Homo sapiens: one gene and its partner. The protein of the gene in region 1 purifies or fractionates together with the protein of each later gene. This does not show direct contact. Each region holds a gene or a part of one and is shown on either strand. Other genes may lie near its edges. The genes, in order: ZNF3 and SMC2.

The links.
Region 2: the proteins of ZNF3 (region 1) and SMC2 purify together in Homo sapiens (co-immunoprecipitation; one large-scale study listed by IntAct). This does not show direct contact.

Annotation. Positions count from the first base shown.
Region 1 is NC_000007.14:100,071,523-100,075,344, forward strand, and holds part of ZNF3 (zinc finger protein 3), read right to left. Parts: coding exon of another isoform or gene 3,740-3,822; coding exon 3,613-3,739; intron 691-3,612; coding exon 1-690. UniProt on the Homo sapiens protein: Involved in cell differentiation and/or proliferation.
Region 2 is NC_000009.12:104,111,093-104,114,914, reverse strand, and holds part of SMC2 (structural maintenance of chromosomes protein 2), read right to left. Parts: intron 3,335-3,822; coding exon 3,101-3,334; intron 1,600-3,100; coding exon 1,440-1,599; intron 952-1,439; coding exon 834-951; intron 225-833; coding exon 86-224; intron 1-85. UniProt on the Homo sapiens protein: Central component of the condensin complex, a complex required for conversion of interphase chromatin into mitotic-like condense chromosomes.

The DNA of each region.
Region 1 (3,822 bases):
AGGCCTTCCCACATTCATTGCAGGCGTAGGGTTTCTCACCAGTGTGGATTCTCTGATGGTGGGTGAGGGTGGAGCTCCAGCTGAAGGTCTTCCCACACTCATTACATTCATAGGGTTTCTCCCCCGTGTGGATCCTCCGATGCAGAATGAGGGCAGAGCTACAGCTGAAGGTTTTCCCACAATCACTACATTCATAAGGTTTTTCCCCAGTGTGGATTCTCTGATGCTGAATAAGGTGTGAGCTCTGGCTGAAGGCCTTCCCACACTCATTACATTCATAGGGCTTTTCCCCAGTGTGGATTCTCTGATGTTGAATAAGGTCTGAAGTTCGATTAAAGCTCTTGCTACATTCATCACACTTATGGGGTCTGTCTCCCACGGGGAGTCTCTGATGTGAGATAAGGTTGGAATTCACAGTGAAGCTGTTCCCAAAATCATTATATTTCTCGCTTCTCTCTCCCCTGGGGGTTAGCTTCTCCTCAACTGTCACTTGACCAAAATCTGGCATTTTCCTGTTCAGTCTTTCTCCAGGGGAGTTCCCCAGCGGCCTTTTCAGACTGACTTCTCGTTCATAGGCTTCTTTAAACTTGAGACCCTGAGAAATATCCTTTTGAAATCTTCCCAGTAGGACCCCATGTGATCTTGTGTCTTCAGAAATTTCTTGATCATTTTCAGTCCTGGTCTCACGATCTGACACAATAAAAAATGCAAATGTCACTTGTTCCTTAGGGAAGAAAGAGTGAAAATCACAGGACAGGATCATTGTAACGAATACTTACAGTGCCAAAAGCACATGCCTACAAAGAGGCCTGCCCCACATGTGTGCGGCTAAGGCAAAATGAGACAGCCGGGCTAAGGAGACAGGGAAGGGGCAGGGCAGAGCAAAACCAAGGAGAACAGAGCTGGAAGTGGAAAGAAAGCTGAGTGTGTGTGGAGGGGAGGACGGATCAGGCAGAGAGGCAGGGAACCAACTTTAGAAGAGGAAGGTCATATTGCTTAATGAAGTGACAAAGCCTTTAGAGAGGTCAGGGCAGTGGATATAACTGGGGACACAGTGACTGCAAGAAGGGAGAGCAAGTACAGGACAGTTGGTGAGAAAAGGGGGGAAGGGTGAGGAGAGACAGCAGCAGCGCGGGAACAAGCAAGGGGGAGGATGCTAGTGGCTGCCATGGCCCCATAAGAAGAGCAATCATGGCTGTCGTCACGCCACAAATGCCAAGCCCATGGAAACGGCAAGACAACTGAGTCCGCCTCTGGGCCCTATGCATAAAAGGCTATGCTCGCACGTAAGGCTATGCAAAGAATCTCAGTGTCTGACGTCTCTGTTTTCACTCCTTTTGAGTTTCTAAAGCCAACTCTGGGCACAGAGGATAAATGTAAAGGGTCCAGAGAGTTTGCGTTTTTAGCTTAATTGATATTTTAAAAAGTAAAGACAGGGTAATGTGTGTTAGGGACGGGAACGGCTGTTTCTCCTTCACCTGAAGAGGTACCTCTTAGGACCTCTCTGCTCTCAGTTCCTTTGAAACCCAGGCCCCTTGGCTCTTCCTCTCATTCTAGCAGAGAGATGGTGGCAGGATTCAGAAATGGGAATTCTGCTCATGGGGAGAGACATGGGACAAGGAGGTTTATCTGCTCACCCTGAGAGTCCCAGAGCTCAATTCCAGACCCCAGATCTGCCGGGGACAGAAGGGAAATGTACAGGAAGGTCTCAAATGAGAGTTAGGAAGACGTCCTGGCTCTGCTCAGGAAAATGCCCACTAAGAGTGGGGTGAGAGACAAGGAATTCTACATCCTAAAAGTTGAGAAACTAATTTATTAATCTTTCTTTTTTTGTTTTTGTTTTTGAGACAAGGTCTCACTCTATCGCCCAGGATGGAGTGCAGTGGCGTGTTCTTGGCTAACTGCAACCTCCACCTCCCAGGTTCAAGCAATTCTCCTGCCTCAGCCTCCCAAGTAGCTGGGATTACAGGCACATGCCACCACCCCCAGCTAATTTTTTTTGTATTTTTAGTAGAGATGGCGTTTCAACATGTTGGCCAGGCTGGTCTCAAACTCCTGACCTCAGTATCTGCCCGCCTCAGTCTCCCAAAGTGCTGGGATTACAGGCATGAGCCACCGCGCCTGGCCTAATTTCTTAACCTTTCTAAGTTTCTACAGAGCAGCAGGGGCACTAGGTCCTGAACAAAGCAACAGGTCCCTAGAAGTTAGAGAAGGGGAGCAGAGAAGCAGAGAAGGAGAGGACAGAGACGTGGGCAAAGAGCAGCACCTCATGTGTTCAGGGATAATCCTTCGGAAAAGTCTCTGGATTATATATTAAGTCCTGAGAATAACACGGAAAAAGTATCAGATTTGGCCAGGCGCGGTGGCTCATGCCTGTAATCTCAGCACTTTGGGAGGCCGAGGCAGGTGGATCACCTGAGGTCAGGAGTTCGAGACCAGCCTGACCAACATGGAAAAACTCCGTCTCTACTAAAAATACAAAATTAGCTGGGTGTGGTGACGCATGCCTATCATCACAGCTACTCAGGAGGCTGTGGCAGGAGAATTGCTTGAACGCAGGACGCAGAGGTTGCGGTGAGCCGAGACCACGCTATTGCACTCCAGCCTGGCAACAAGAGTGAAACTCCATCTCAAAAAAAAAAGGTACCAGATTTGGAGTTAAAGACTGGGCCCCAAGTTTTGCCACTCATCAGCCCAACTGATGACCATGCATGCACAAGACATTGAGACCGCTACTCTCACCTCCACTTTATTTACTTATTTATTTTTTGAGACAGGGTCTGTGTCACCCAGGCTGGACTGCAGTAATGCCATCTCGGCTCACTGCAACCTCGGCTTCCCAGGCTCAAGTGATCCTCCAACCTCAGCCTCCCAAGTAGCTGGGACTACAGGCATGTGCCACCATGCCTGGCTAATTTTTTGGATATTTGGTAGAGACAGGGTCTCGCCATGTTGCCCAAGCTGGTCTTGAACTCTTGACCTCAAGTGATCCTCCTGCCTCAGCTTCTCAGAGTGTTGGGATTACAGGTGTGAGCCACCTCGCCTGGACTACTTTCACTTTCCTTACCTGTAAAATGAGGAATAATACTAGCTGCCTCAATTAATGTGTTACTGTGAAGATTAAATGAAAGAATATATATGAGAACTCTTTATAAGTTGCAGACTGCTGTATAAATGAGTTAAGATTATTGTTCTTACAGTTTCCTAAGACTAAGTCAATCCTTACCTAGGCCAGGTGCAGTGGCTCATGCCTATAATCCCAGCACTTTGGGAGGCCAAGACGGGTGGATCACTTGAGGTCAGGAGTTTGAGACCAGCCTGGCCAACATGGTGAAACCCCGTCTCTACTAAAACAAAAAAAAACAAAACAAATACAAAAATTAGCCTGGTGTGGTGGTGCGTGCCTGTAGTCCCAGCTACTTGGGAGGCAGAGGTGAGAACCTGGGAACACTTGAATCTGGGAGATGGATGTTGCACTGAGCAAAGATTGTGCCATTGCACCTCAAAAAAAAAATCTGCTGAAACAGCTCTTTTCAGTGACTAGATTGTTACTAGCAAACGAAGAAGCAAAGAAACACCAGCGAGTTTTGTTGACAAGGCATAACTCCTTACCCAGTGAGAACACATTCCCGTAATTCTCCAGCATCACATCTCTATAGAGGTCCCTCTGAGCAGGTTCCAAACGCTTCCACTCCTTCCGGATGAAGTACACAGCTACATCCTCAAAGGTTACCAGCTCCTGAAACAACACGTGCTGGCATGCAATTTCAGGGTGAGGAATGTGAATGGCGGCACCAAAAAAATCACTGAGGATGGGGTGAA
Region 2 (3,822 bases), on another chromosome or scaffold:
ACATCAAAGTATTTAATTCTTTTAGCAGCACATGACTTTTCAAGCTAACCAAATTTTAAATTTTTTAAAATTAAAATCAACTTACTTCTGTGTCTACTACAACATTGTAGAGTCGTTCTCCAGCCACTAATTCTAAAGCTGTGGTTGCAGAAGTGTCTTTCACACTAATCAGAGAAGCCACAAGTCCTTTCACACAATTTCTATTCCAGTTCTTCTCTGGATCCCTGAAATACAAAAGTTGACAAAAATTAATCTTAGATAATAAAGTAGAAAAAGTTATACTTTACTCATCAGGAGCTCTTTTGGACAACACATTAAAGTGAAATGAAAGTAGAATCAGCAAAATGGTTTTAACAAACCAAAAATTTTAAAATGTCCCAAATGACTAGCCAGCTGTTGTTTTTAAATCACAATAGATCTTTCAGTATGTTTCAATGTAGTAAGAACAACTCTGATGTTCTAATCCCTATAATACATATGATTACTGTAAATATTCCATAAAAAACCCACATAGCAAAACAAATTATAAGATGTAAATGTGGATATTTAACATTAATGATACAGTAACTCTGAAGACATTTTGAACTGAGATTAAATTTCCCTCATTTTAAGATTAGTGGCATCATTAGCCATTAAATTTCACAAGAATTTCCCTGCCAACATTTAAAACATTTCAACAAATGTTTAAAGGAAAAATACCAATGAAAGAAAAGCAGCTTACAACAAGTTTCATACAAAAATCTTGGTTTCGACAAAATTTTCACACTGCTTCCAGCTTAAATAAAAATGTCTTGATTATTACTATGTTAAAATTCAAGGCTTAAGTCTCTTACTTGTATGCAAATCGAAGATTGGGAAATCTGGCTAATAGAGCTTCATATGTTTCTTTCAATCTACCAATATCACGAGACAGCTGCCTGCGCTTTTCCAAAAGGCTTTCCTCTTTATTTTCTGAAGGATAAATCATAATAAATTAAAACCAAGTTTTAAAAGCTCACTCTACTGTTTTAAGGAAAATATTAGCAACCACTATTTCCAAAGCATGCAAAAAATACAAATTTCTGTAAGTATTAAAAAAGCATGCTGAACCTTCCTATTTCTATCCACTGTCAAACAGACATTATTTCCAACGGCAAATAACACAATTTTCATTCCAAAAAATAACATACAAACTGAATGCCTAATGTAGAAATACACAAATGACATTTTTGAGCTTTCAAATGATTGAAGCAGGAAATTCTCAATACTGAGTTCTCAAAAATTCAAGAGTTGTTTTATAATTAGGTATTTTTTGACGATATTTACAACACTTCTTATACTAATGCTTGTTAATAGGCTAAGAAATGTTTCCTACTTGCTTGCGTTCTTTATTTAAATTAGCTTTTTATCAAAAATCACTACCTCCTCATGATCTGATTATCATGTTTTTAAAGGCAAACCTTCATAATTTAGCTTTTTCATTTCAGCTTCAAGTTTTTCTTTAAGTCTTTTTACAGCTTCTAGAGCTTCTTGATCCTTCCTGTAGCCACTATCCATCTTCTTAACTTCAGCTTGTTTATTCTTTAATTCCTGTTGAGCATGCTTCAACTTCATCTGAGCCTGTGGCAGAAAAATGCAACAGACCATAGGATGTATGAGGCAGACAGTGCTAGTAATTAAATGGCCGAAGATTCAGATTGGTTTTACTAAGAGACCTTAACCTTCAAAGTTTAATTGTTTGGTCTCTTGGATTAGTATTTCAACAAATTAGTCATTTCCCAGTATTTTCTCCTCAAAAAACTACTCAAAGTATAAACTAATATATGATTAATATGTAAAAGAATTTGAAATTTAAGTCCGTATTTTTAATAAAATATGACATATTCAAATTGAAGGATTATATCGAATAACTGTCAGTAGCTGGTAATTAAAAAAAGAACGCTAGAAATCACAACTCTCGTTCTTTTCCTTTCCGCTTAGTTGTTCATATTTGTATGTGTATATATTTGTGAGTGCTATCTAATAACAGTAAAGAAACTGAATTGAGCAATAAGACGTAAGATTATACAGGAAAAGAAGCTAAACTGACAGAGAAACTTAAATGCTGAGTCTGATAATTAAATGCTAGAACTATTTAAATTACATGTGTCAGGCCTTCAAGAATTTATACACTTGAACACTGCTTCTTAAAACTATGAACTAGTATTCTAAAACCTAGATGGGGTTTTAGATGGGGGTATCCTCCAAAACTGTATAATGATGTATTTTTCCCAGTTCCCTTATAAAATAATAGACAAACTGAGAGTAGAGTACTTTAAAGCTTTTCTACTATTGAGAGTTCTTATAAATTTGTGACTATCATCTGTCATGCCTGAATGAAAAAGTTGCAAATATATAAAGAGAAAAACCTGAGGATTAACGCATAATCACACACATTTGTGTACATGTTTTAAAATCTGTGTCTTCCATTAAAAACAAAACAATGATGTGCCTGTGTACATGTATTTTTTCTGCTAGCAAAATTCTTATGTTCATAGGACTGTAAGTTGCACTACTATGTAAAATCTGAGAAACATTATAATAGACTGACAAGACTTTTAAGATTATGAAATCAGAGTAGGGAGAGCAGACTAGAATGTGGCTACATGTGAGGTAGAGATACTTCCTAAAAAAATGTAAAGTTTGAGAAACAAGGTTTTAAGAACTAGGTATGGCAGGCAAAGCAATGGGGAGGACAATCCTGTTTTCCTGTTAAAGCTTAAGACTTCAACATTATGTTATCAATAAAAAATAAAAATAGCCAAAAAGAGACAAGAATAAATGCATTAATCTCGAAAATTCCACACAATGCTGCAAACAGAACAAAGCATTTATTGCACTTACATACCGAATTAAGATAATTTATGTAGTACAGCATCTTCACAAATTAACATCACCAATATTTAGCAATCAACATATTTGAATTTCGCTGCATTAGGCATTAGAGTTGCAGAATAAAGTAAACAAACAAGTTCCTTGAGACTGATTATTTTCAACATTATGTAACAATTGCCAAAGCATAACATGAAAAGAAACTTCTTGGAAAAAAAAGCAATCACATAGTGCTAATGTCTCTATTTACCTGTTTGGCTTCTGTCTGAGCTTTACTTATATCATTTTTACAGGCCATCATTTGACCAGCAAGAGTTGCTTCTGCTCCATCTTCATTACTGGACAGGCCAGCGGAAACAGCATTGAAGTGCTGCTGTGCAGCTGCCAGAGCTTCAGCATCTTTATTACTTGCTTCTTGAAGGGCATGCAGTCCATCTGTTATCTTTTTAACCTCTTTTTCCTTTGCTGCTAAAGTTTTTGAGTCCTTTAGGAAGAGTTTCAAATGGAAAAATATTATATTTCAGGAAAAACACCCACTTTCTTATACGCATACCCTTATGTAATAAAATTCCATAGCAATTTGGAGTGAGCATAATAAAATAATTTAACCATCATAACTTTATAAATACTGAATTATCATTTTGAAATTCACTCTCAGTTTTTAGAATAAATATAACTCTTATACTACTGGTTCATTCCATGTTATAAATTAAATCCATGAGACATTGGGCTAAATAATAATTGCAGATTTAAACAAATCACTTGAAGGGACTAAAAATGAATTTCTAAAGCTGTAAAACTGAAATAACAGACATCCTACACTAGCTTAAAAGTAGAGATTTTAGAATTAAGAGCATGTATATGAAAATATTTTATAAACTGTCAAGAGCCATAAAATTTGAGCATTAAATAGTTTCAGAAAAAGTATTACTATTATGTAACACCTTTTAAGTAATACTACCAGATAGCTGA